2 separate regions of the Homo sapiens genome follow, and region 1 is linked to region 2. Evidence: fine-mapped QTL for protein levels in blood plasma. A gene starts in region 2. The other region holds a variant in brackets. All regions are shown on one strand. Distances are between the middles of the regions.

Region 1 (8,543 bases), 41 kb after region 2:
GTTCCATGTCCAGGAGACTCTCCAGGGCAGCCGTAGTCTGTGTTAGCTTAGCAACTAGCTCAGCAAGCCAGGTTGCTTTGATCTTATGGCACCTCCATTTCAAAATGTGCCTTCACAGTCTCTTCAGTAGACGAAGAGAGAAAGGCCAATTGTGTCCTGGCTAAGAGCTTTGGCCTGGAAGCAACCACATATCACTTTCCATTACAGCCTTTTGTCTCAAACTAGAGAGTAGCCTCAGAGGACTGGGGAATGTAGCCTTGGTCTGTTCAAGAAGCGGAAATGAAAATATAATTTGCACCTATAAGATGAAACACATATGCCTGTAGGGCAAGCAAAACCTGAGTGCCAGAAGGGCAACAGGACAAAGCAAGTGATAATTGAGTCAAAAGATATGTTAGTTAGTGTGCTAGTCTAAGGAATCTTACTTTATATTACTAAGTTTACACAGTATTGCTTACTAACCCACCACAGGACACAATCAGACGAGGGGCACAAAAGAGCAGGATACTGCCAACAGTGCAAAATGCCTGGAGTTAGATCTGCAACAAGTGAAAGCGGCAATAGCTGAGGGCAGAAAAGTGGGCAGGGGCCAGGTTATGAAGGGCCTTGTGTTTCAGTCTCAGGCATTCAGAACAATCATGGAGGGGAGACTTTGAAAGGCTTTAACAAGGGGAATAAATGTGCTGCATTTTAGAAAGATAACTCTGGCTGTGGGACAACAACCTGAAGTGGGACAAAACTTAACTGACAGTCACCTGCTATGGCTTGAATGTGCATCTCCAAACTCATGATAAAACCTAAGACCCAATGTGATCGTTTTAACAGGTGGAACTTTTGGGGAAGTGATTAAGTCATGAGGGATCCACCCTCATGAATGGGATTAGTGCCCTTATAAAAGAGGTTGAAGGGAGAGCGCTAGTCTCTTTTGCCCTTCTGTCTTGTGAGGACAGAGCTTTCATCCCTTCCCCCATGTGAGGACGCAGCAAGAAGGCACCATCTTGAAAGGGGAGAGCAAGCAGACATTGAATCTGATGGTGGCTAGATCTTGAGCTTCCCAGCCTCCAGAACTGTGAGAAAGAAATTTCCATAATTTATAAACTAGTGAAAGTATTTTGTTATAGCAGCAGGAACAGACTAAGACAGCACCTGTGCAACCCTCCAGCCAAAAACTGAAGGTGGCTTCAGCGGTAGCATGGCAGTGGGGCTGGACAGAAGTTAAGGGATTGTAGAGGAATTAAAGTAGCAGAATTGCCAGGACTGGATGACTGCCAGGATGTGGGTGAGGGGTGTGAGATAGGGGGCGGCTTGTTTTCTGCTTGTCGGGGCATGGGTCTCTGATCCCCTGGGCTGCCTCTGCACTATGTAATTACCATGGGCCACGGACCCATAACCAAAATCATCTAGGAAATTAGGCCATTATACTGAAAGTTTTGGGGGCCTTGGAAATATGTTTCTGCTGGGTTATGTATGACTGATTTTTATTGGTAGGGAAGTTGGAGGAGCTATCCACAGTCATCTCGAAGAAGGACCAATGTAATGAAAACTCATTTTAAAAGCTGAAATTATATATTTTATATATATACACACACATACATATGTGTATATATAAATATATATTATATCAAATATAAAAATATATAATATATAATACTATTGGTATAGTGTTATATATTCTATAAGACTATATTATAGAATATATAAAATATATAATAAGTATCATTAACATAATATAAATAATTTCAGCTTTTAAAAGCCTCAGTAAAATGAGTTTCCATTACATTGGTCTTTCTATGAGGTAATTGTGGATAACTTCTTCAACTTCTCCACCAATAAAAACTAGTACTGAAAGGATTACATATATATATATATTATATATACAGATATATATGTATGCGTTTGTGTATGTGTATTCACTTTAAAATGTTTCCCTTGTATCTACTTGACATGCACATTCAACAGGCATTTGTGTTGCACTTGTAACTGGATTAGCAGTGGCAGTAATATCCTTATTACCATCTATCTTTTAAAATCCACTTGTCTTTTCTCATGATTCTTTAGAAATCACCTGTCGCAAGCCAGATGTTTCACATGGGGAAATGGTCTCTGGATTTGGACCCATCTATAATTACAAAGACACTATTGTGTTTAAGTGCCAAAAAGGTTTTGTTCTCAGAGGCAGCAGTGTAATTCATTGTGATGCTGATAGCAAATGGAATCCTTCTCCTCCTGCTTGTGAGCCCAGTAAGTATGGACTGTGACAGAATTTCAATGTTTGGCATCTAAAGGTACCCCGTACTGTTAATACGGGTATACTTGCATGCATAGGCCTACTATGAATTACAGTAAAAATTTACATCTAGATCAATAATTTCCTTTATTTTTTTCTTGTTGGAAAGAAGAATGATTTTAGTGCACTCTGCAAGGTCATATATTGTCACACAAAACTGCCACATACCACAAGACTGTGCACATTCCAACCTTAAAGGGAGGTGTTAACATTGTAGATACTATGGATTTGTATATTTATTTCAATAATTTTATGGAATTTGATAGAAAATTGTCTTATTCTAACAAAATCATTATATTATTATAATTACTTTGAAAGACAAATAATAAATTGTCCTGAGGAAAAATGCCTTTTATAACTTGTACAAAAGTATTGTGTGAACTGGTTATGATTCCAACACTCTGAAGTTATAAACTCGTGGATTATTAAAAATAATGACAATAGTAATAATGATAACTTGGCACTAGACTAGGTGCATAACAAGGATTAACTCAACAAATCCTCCCAACAATTGTGGGCACTATGATTATCCTTATGTTACAGATGAGAAACTGTTCACAGAGGTTAAAAGACTTGCTCAAGGTTATACAACTGGTAAGAGAAGGAAGCCACTGATGCCTTGTGCTCTAAGTTTTGCCCTCACGAAATGTCAAGAACTTCTGGGGATTTCTGGAGCAGTGGTGGAGGAGTTTGGGGAAACCTCTCTCCTGAAGAGGTATCCACCAAGCTGGTCAAAATTAGCAAAGAAAACCATTCAAAGTCTCTGGAGAGTGATCAAAGGGATTACAACAAACCGAGAAGCATTTATTCAGCAAAAATATGGAGACTTGATAGGAACAGTGGGAGGACATTGCATTAGAACTAGGGGCTGCAACAGCTCTACCTTGCGGGAGGATGTTTTCTGTGGGCTCATCCCACAAGTGGCAATTCCCATCTTCTCCAGCTCCCTGGGGTAAAAAAGTTATTTGGGGTGGATTTGGCAGCCAGTGAAAATTACATGACAGTATTTTTCAAAGATCCATGCTGTGGAAGTCGAATATTGAATCGGTGCCAGCAAACATGCATCAGTGTCTGTTCCTTCACCCCCAACTCCGATTATATGGGGAGGATCTAAGTGGGGCAGCTGGTAAGAAGTCAGTCCCCCCTTTTTCATGGCTCTATGTTGCACGAGAACTATTCCAGTTGGCTCAGCAGCCAAGTGGCATCTCCCATCTTCCCCAGCTTCCTAGAATGGAAGAACTATTATGGGTAGGTTGACAGCTATGAATATTGGCAGTTATTATTCTCCCCAGCTCTGCGCTGTGGAATATGTGTACTTGGTGGTGGGCGCAGCTGGGTGGCAGTGCCAGTTCCTACTTCCCCCTTTTCTCTTCTCACAGCTCCTACACCATAAGAAGAACTCTAGTGCAGTGCCTGGGAAAGAATGAGTTTTCTAATTTCCCCCAGCTCCTGATCTATAGGACAGACATTCTTCCAGGGCAGATTTGGAGCAAGCTT[C/T]AAAGACTGTAAACACTCTGCCCCTTTCAAGGAACTTTAATTGGATTAGACTGTGAAGCATATTATGCCCCAGGGAGTTGCTGAAAAAAGTAGAACAATCAGATAAAGATTGCTGGAGGCCAATGGTTGTATGTAATACCAACAGAGGTAGACCACCCAAAGTCTCAATGAGAAAGAGACAGTCAAAGAGAAAACCACAGTTATCTCTGGCAGTTAAAAAGACTGTGTACATGCCCAAGTCTGTGCTGTCTGAGGCATGCTGTTAGATGTTGCACACTTTGAAGGAAACAGACTTAACTGAACTAGTCCAATTATGTCACTAAACAAACAAGAAAATGAGGAAACAACAACAGATCCCAAAGGTGGTAAGGGAGAATCAATATCCAAAGTTGCTGCAATGTATTATCTAACATGTTCTGTTTTCAAAAAAAAAATTGTCAGATGTGCAAAGAAACAGGAAAGAGTGACCCATGTAAAGGGAAAAAGCCAACAATAGAAACTGTTTTTGAGGGAGCCCAGAGAATGGACTTAGCAGGAAAGTTCAAAGAATCACAAAGCAGCTATTATAAATATGTCCCAAGAACTAAAGGAAACAATATTTAAAGAATTAAGTAAATGTATTATGACAGTTTTATCAAATAGAAAATATTGATAAAGATAGAAATTATTTTAAAAAGAAATGGAAATTCTAGAGTTGAAAAACACAGTAAGTAAAATGAAAAATTCAAAAGAGGAACTCAACAGTAGATTTGAGTTGGAAAAAGAATCAGTGAATTTGAAGATAAATTGAGATTATGCAATTTGAAGCACAGAGATGAAAAGAATGAGGAAAAATAAATGGCATCAGAGAAATGTGGGACACCATTAAGTGTACCAACATATGTATAATGAGAGTCCCAGAAAGATGAGAGAAAGAGAAAGGAGATAAAAACCTATACAAAGGAAAAATGGCTGAAAATATCACAAATTTGACCAAAAAAAAAAAAAACCCAAACAAAAGAACAAAACAACACATTAATCTACATATCCAAGAAGCTTGTTGAACTCAAGTAGGATATTGCAAAAAGGTCTAGACCTTGAGACATTATAATCAAAATGTTGAAAACCAAGAATGAAGAGAAAATCTTGAAAGCAGCAAGAGAAGAGCAACGCATCATGTACAATGTAACCCCAGTAAGATTAACATCTGATTCCTTATCAGAAAGAATGGAGGCTAGAAAGCAGCTAGATGACACATTCAAAGTGCAGAAAGATAAAAACCTCAACCAAGAATCCAACAACATATTTTGCACTTACATATATTACAAACTGCACAATAAATTTTTATAATTATTGTTTTATATAATTTCATGTTTCATGTCTTTTATAGTAGCTGAGAGAAGAAAGGAGGGCAAGTATATATTTAGAGAGTTTATTATGTTAATCTTCTTATTCTTCATTTCTGGCGCTCTTTATTTCTTCCTGTAGATTCAAGTTACCATCTGGTGTCATTTCTGTACTATAATACAGCTTTGTTCCCTCCTACCTTTCTTGTGATGTTATTGTCAAATATATTGCATTTCTGTATGTTATAGGCTTAATAATGCAATTATATACATATTGTTTTATGCAATTGCTGTTTAAATCAGCTAAGAGAAGGAAGGAGTAGTAATATATATTATACTGTGGTTCAAATTACTGACATAATGACCTCTGCTGATGCTCATTGTTTTACTGTGTGGATTCAAATTACCGTCTGGTGTCAATTGCTTTCAGTCTGAACAATTTCCTTTAGCATTTCTTGTAAGGATAGCCTTCTAGTAACAATCAGATACCACTTCACATCCAGCAGAATGGCTGTAATAAAAAAGATAGACAATAACAAATGTTGGTGAGGATGTGGAAAAATTAGAACTCTCATACACTGCTAATAGGAATGTAAATTGGTGCAACCATTTTGGAAAAGAGTTTTTGCAGTCCTGCTGAAGTTTAACCATGGAGTTACCATATGACTCTAATTACCCTCCTGGGTATCTACCCAAGATAAATGAAAACATATGTCCACACACAAAAATTTTACATGAAGATTCATAGCAGCATTATTCATAATAGCCAAACAACCCAAATGCCCATCAAATGAATAATGAATAAACAAAAAGTGGTTTATCCATAAAATAGATTATATCATTTGGCAATAAAAATGAAAAATAAAAAGTACTAATGTATGCTACAACATGGATGAACCTTGAAAATATTATGCTAACTGAAATAAGCCAGTCACAAAAAGTACATGTATTGTGTGATTCCATTTATTTAAAATGCTCAGATTAGGCAAATCCATAAAGAAAAAAATAGATTAGTGGTTGTCAGGACCTAGGGGGAGGTGGAAATAGGGAGTGACTGATAATGAATATGAGGTTTCTTCTTGGGTTGATAAAAATATTCTGAAATTAGTTAATGGTGATGGTTGCACAACTCTGTATATACTAAAAACCATTGAATTGCACATTCTAAATGGGTGAATTTATTTGTTGTGACTTTAATCTGAATAATGCTGTTAAAAAAGAACTTTTATATTCCATTTCAATAATCATCCAACGTGGTAGATGTTTGCATTATATTTTCATATCATATGAATCAGTAGCATTGGGAAAGAGAGAAGAGGACAAGATCCAAGGCCCAGGCTCAAAAAATGTTTGGAGCTTGGTTTTTTTCTTGCCAAGTCATTCCTGGTATCATCTGGATGAGGGGAACGGCTCCTGTTTATTTTCCCCAATCAATCAGTAAACATAGTTAGATTTGTTTGTGACAGTTTTCCTGCCATGCTTCAGTTCAGAAACTAAAATCTCTGAAATGTAAAGAAGAGGAATGAGAATTAAAATTATTATACTTGGCACAGCACATGGAAACCACTTGGGAGTGCCCTTAGTGAAGAGCCTCTCTGGAGGTGTGCACATTTGAGCGAATGTCCATGTGTGTTTTCTGGTGTGGTTGATACATCAGGCCTTGCAGGCTGGTTCCAGGCTGAATGAACGTATGACCCCCTTTGATAGGACAGGCTTATTGACTGCTGTGGCAGCCCTAGTAATAGCGTCCTTTTGTTCTTCTTCTTCTTCTTTCATGAGTAGATAGTTGTATTAATTTACCAGACATTCCACATGCTTCCTGGGAAACATATCCTAGGCCGACAAAAGAGGATGTGTATGTTGTTGGGACTGTGTTAAGGTACCGCTGTCATCCTGGCTACAAACCCACTACAGATGAGCCTACGACTGTGATTTGTCAGAAAAATTTGAGATGGACCCCATACCAAGGATGTGAGGGTGAGTTTTTGTTTTTTAATATTTTTGTATATTAAATGTCCAGTATGTGCTAGGATTCTCTACCTTAAATGAATATAATTTTATCCCTCACAACAAGTTTAGAATTAAGTTAATTCAACAGATTAGTAAACTGTTAGTGCCAGAAGGGGACCATAAACATGTTACAGTTTGAGGCACTGAGAAATTGTAACCTTTCCTTATCCCAGTTCAGAATCAAATGAGAAGTAGACACAGAAGTCAAACATTATGCAGATTATGTATTAGTTTTCTTACTGGTAAAACTAGAATGGAGAATACAGCTCAACTATTGTCAGAGTCAGGCTTCCTTCATAGCCCTTACCTCCCCAGTATGGGCTTTGGGGTGTTTGGCAGAAGACAAGTTTGTGAAACAGTCATGAGCGTAACCAGCTGCAGGGTGACTTGTGTCTCATGTCTCTTGAACCATGAGATGGCAGGGCTTCCTGATCTGCCTCTAGAAGACAAATCCTGACTCGTGACTGAGCATTCTCACTTCGTAAGGATAGAAAGGAGACTTCCTCCAGTTTCTCTGGTAGGAGACGCACCTCTTTTATTTGTGGAAATGAGTGAGGGACTGAACGACAAGTGGATACTATATTATGAGCCTCAGTGGAACAGACAAGAGAGGAAGAAAATGCTTTCTTCTATCCATCTATCAGAACCTTGCCACTTTAGAGGTGAAGACACTGAGGCCAAGAATACAGGGAATTTTATGCTGCATATCAGAATTTCAACAATCTGTGAAATGCATAAATAATGAAAAGTGGTAGTTTAGATCAACCTGTCAGAAGATTACTTATTTCATATTAAGACTTAACAAAGTTTAATTGCAGTTATTCAGACTCATTTTGGGGAAATAGAATAAAAGATTTTAATAAAAGGACTGAATTAAAAATATACTTAATAAAACTTACCGCCATTACTTAAATAACAAAAAGTATTGCTTATAAATGTTTAAAAACCTCCTTTATAGTTGTATTTAGGCTAGGTGCGGTGGCTCCTACCTATAATCCCAGTACTTTGGGAGGCTGAGGCGGGAGGATTGCTTGAGCCCACGAGTTTGAGACCAGCCTGGGCAATAGAGTGAGACCCTTGTCTCTACAAATAATTTAAAAAATTAGCGGGATGTGGTGGCACACGTCTGTAATCCCAGCTACTCAGGACGCTGAGGTAGGAGGATAACTTGAGGCTAAGAGGCCAAAGCTGCAGTGAGCCGAGATCATGCCACTGCATTCCAGCCTGGATGACAGAGCAGGACCCAGTTGTTTACATTTATTTGATCCCCTATGATCTTATTGATTTAATTATTTAATAAAGAATATTTTTAACCATTTTAAAAGCAGAAGTGAAGTAGTATTTATCCAAGTTATGAAACCTGATCAAATGTGAATTTAGACTCATGACTTACATATTTAAAAGTATTTTCTGCACTGCAAAGC
Region 2 (3,780 bases):
CCAAACTTTGTGATGCTATTTATTGTCTCTATAGAGCCCACTTAGTGTGAATATTTTTGTATTTTTATATTTTATGGAGAAATATTAGTAAGACAATAGTATAAGTGATATGGTTTCTAAAGTCCTATAGTTCTGAATCTGAAGTAAGCCATTAAGATGAAGAATTACTTGCAATTATTTCCTGTAATACATGTTCTATTTTATGTCCATATTTATGTAGGGCTAAACTAGATTTTCCTTCCTTTTTAAAATAATTTATTGTACAAACATTCTGTATATAAATCTATAAAAGATACTGAAGAACATGCATTCCTCAAGAAGTAGAACATGGGGTATGTAAATAAAAATTATTCAAAGCTTAGGATTAGCAAAAAGAGATCACTGGAGTAAATGCTCAATGGATTCCTGGGCATTTTCTAGCAGGCCCTCTGGAGATGATCTCTGACTGACTTTATTTAAAGTTCTTTTAGAACTCTTTAAGCATAGAGGTTAATTTGCAGTAAATTTATAGGAATGCAAATGACTCTTATCTGAGAACAATGCAAATGATTCCTGGTTATAGTAGAGCAAATATATTTTGTCCATTTTGTTTTAATTACTTTCCACCAGGTAGAAAAGCTAATTGCAAATATTACAGTTTGTTACTCTGTAGGATATTAACCAGTTTTGTATCTATTGGAAAGGTCACTTCAGAATGCTTTTGACTGACTGACTATATGCATTCCTATTCCTCAAATTCTTCTTTGAACCAGTTGTAGCATCTGAATGTTTCCTCATTAATTAATGAGTTGAATTAAATCTTTGATATATATTCATCTTATATTTACTTGTGTCATATTTTTAACTTTTTGAAAATCATGTCTTAGAGGGTGCTTACACTATAGGAATTTGCATATTAGTTAAGAAAAGATAAGACATAAAAAATCATAAGGCAGCATGTGATAAATGGCAAGTGATCATATGGATTTTGGGGGCTGTGGTAGAGTTTCTGGATGACAGTTTTTTTCATTTATTTCTGCATTACTTTCATTCATTTAACAGACAACTGCTTTGCAATATGAAGCACCGTGGAAGGGAATACAAATACAAATCAGACACAAACCCTGTCCTGGAGTTAGCAGTTTCCTGTGGGAATAAAGGGGAGGAAAAAAACACCTTTCCTCTACCATATTGTATTCAGTGGCTGGGACCTGCAAATTAGACTAAGACAGATTAACAGGAGAGAAAATTCTATTTATACATGTAACTTGAGTACATGTGGGAAAACTCAGTGATAAGTAATTCAAAAAGTTGGTTAGAATTGGGGCTTATACATCATCTTAATAGGTGAAGGTGGGGAGAAGAAAGGCACTTACAAGAAAACAGATTATTGGCCGGGTGCGGTGGCTCATGCCTATAATCCCAGCACTTTGGGAGGCCAAGGCGGGTGGATCATTTGAGGTCAGGAGTTCAAGACCAGTTTGGCCAACATGGTGAAACCCCATCTCTACTAAAAATACAAAAATTAGCCAGGCGTGGTAGCGCATGCCTGTAATCTCAGCTACTCGGGAGACTGAGGCACAAGAATGGCCTGAACCTGGCAGGTGGAGGTTGCAGTGAGCCAAGATCATGCCAAGACACCATCTCAAACAAAAAAGAAAACAGATTATTTTTTGGAAAGGCAAGTGGGTTTTCAGGGGAAAAGTAGGAAATTAGAAAGTTTTGTGATAATGTTTGTGTATATAAGTACGAGTGTTCTTTCTGTCTCCTTCAAGGCCATGAAATTTCTCTGGAGAAGGAATTTGAAATATGTTTTACTCATGCTCTCCCCTCCAGGATAGACCTACCCTGAAAAGGAATTTATGGCAACCTTATCTCCAAGGTTGCTGCCTTTAGTCAGATAAGGAAAGCCCCCAAAATCTCTGTTCCTTTCCATATCACTGAATCTCAAATATCTTCAGCTTAAAAGAATCTTAACGCCAAATATTTGGGGGTGGCATATCCTGATTCCTTTCAGGAGAAAGACATAGATTAATCATCACAAACAGTAGTAATGGATGGAGAAGAGAAGAACATTTGCAACCTTACTGTGTCCTTAATGCTTTATTATTCTATTAAAACCTGAAATTTTGTAGGAATTTTTCCCCAGTTTCATAATTACAGCACAGAGAACCAACCAAGGGTTATAGTAGTCACAAGCAAGATGATATGGGATCCCTCAAAACAATTTTACATGCCTTAATTCCTGAGACCAAAGCATTCTCCTCACCTCTCTCTTTACTCATTTGGTTAACTCTGGACTCAGGCCAAATCCTGTCCCTGGAAGAGCCACAAAGTAGGAAGCCTGGGTACAGGCCTGGCAAGCGAGAACAATGTGTCACTGCAGGACTTTGGAGCTCTCAGCTTTGGAGTCAGTTAAGACCAGTTCCTTGCTGGGAAGCCCTAACTCTGGAGGGACAGAGACAGGTAAGGTTAGTTTACTTCCTTGAGCTTTCGTCTTCAGTGCTGCTTACAGCCTTAGGATATCTGGTATTCAGGAAAGGAGGATGAGGTAGCATTCAAAATTGTGTTCTACCTGGGCAAGAACCAGGGATTGACAGCCCGTTCTCTTTCCCCAGTGCTGGCCAGAGTTACAGAAGTTGGACTGTAAACATTGGCAACTATTGACAGAAGTCAAGGTCATGGCAAGACCATTTGGCCCATGTTTGTTGGGGAAGGATAAGCCTGCGTTTCAAAAAGACTGGTCAACTGGATTTGCATTCCCAGAAACCAGGAAATTTCTGAAACTGAGTTTTAAACCTGGCAACTCTTTTACCATCCCTTTGTATTTTTGCAGTTCCTCCCTATACCAGCTTCCTTACAGCTGTTCTGATTTCCTGTCGTAAGATTTTTTCTTTTCATTTTCTCCAGGGAGGGTAAATCAATATAACCTCTTCTCTAGAGAGGAGGTGGTTAGGTTGGTCTTAAGCAGTGTTAGAAGATCTATTTTTTTTCAAACCAGGTGTCTGAGCTGGGTGAATTCCAGCCTGGGGAGAGGACTTTGATCACCAGATGTTTTTTTGGTGTGCGTGCTGTCTTATGGTTGCGTGGCGAGTTTCTGCTTCAGATGGTACGTATGCTTTCCTTCAACTCAGCTTACAGGCATTTGGTGTCCTTTTGCGGTGTTTTGAGGAACTCTGTCTAGGGCTTTAAGGAAGTTTACATTTATAATATCTTTATTCTTCTATTGAAAAATCTCAAATTGGCCTAATGCTCTGCACTCAATAGGAGCTTAGTGTACATTTAATGATAACCCTGATCTCTGAAGTGGGTGGTTACTGTTTTTTTACTTTCCCTTTCTGTTCTGGGAGCAAAAAGAGTACCAATTTCAAAATCCTGGGAGGTCTTACTTGTTATAAACTCCAGGATCGCTATTTGTGTAGGGGACTATTTGTTTAGAAGTGGACAACTTGTGGTTGAATTTGAGTAAAATTCCTGTTATACTTTTGAAAATAAAACTTCGGAATTCCGGCCGGGCGCAGCGGCTCAAGCCTGTAATCCCGGCACTTTGAGAGGCCGAGGTGGGCGGATCACGAGGTCAAGAGATCGAGACCATCCTGGCTAAGACAGTGAAACCCCGTCTCTGCTGAAAATACAAAAAATTAGCTGGGCGTGGTGGCGGGTGCCTGTAGTCCCGGCTACTTGGGAGTAGAATACAGAGTACTTGGGAAGAGCACAGGAATCAGGATCAATAATCCAGCAAAAAGACATGAGAATGGGGAAATCTAATAAGGGTTCTCTGACAGCACATGATATGCCAAG

Direction of the effects. Positions count from the first base shown, and alleles are read on the strand shown. Strength reflects both the effect of a copy and how common the allele is.
For the plasma level of the protein whose gene starts at base 2,359 in region 2, T is the high allele of the variant in region 1 and C is the other (weak association).

What was found. A credible set is the group of variants that fine-mapping cannot tell apart. PIP is the chance, under the fine-mapping model, that this variant and not a neighbour inherited with it causes the effect. The UK Biobank Pharma Proteomics Project read protein levels with antibody pairs (Olink). The fine-mapping took linkage between variants from a reference panel, not from the people measured, so its PIPs are less certain.
Region 1: its variant is the best candidate, but not a certain one, in a credible set for the plasma level of the C4BPB protein (UK Biobank, PIP 0.55).

What each region holds. Positions count from the first base shown.
Region 1 is chr1:207,124,655-207,133,197 of GRCh38, forward strand. C4BPA (complement component 4 binding protein alpha) reads left to right here. Exons shown (of 12, transcript NM_000715.4): 7 at 2,059-2,241; 8 at 6,892-7,086. It overlaps LOC107985251 (a long non-coding RNA gene), which reads right to left. Exons shown (of 3, transcript XR_007066838.1): 3 at 2,356-5,620. Among named protein-coding and RNA genes, the nearest start is that of C4BPA, 25 kb to the left of the region's middle. The variant C/T (reference allele first, on the strand shown) is at 3,785.
Region 2 is chr1:207,086,502-207,090,281 of GRCh38, forward strand. C4BPB (complement component 4 binding protein beta) reads left to right here and starts at 2,359. Exons shown (of 7, transcript NM_001017365.3): 1 at 2,359-2,445; 2 at 2,981-3,088. The coding sequence starts at 3,031.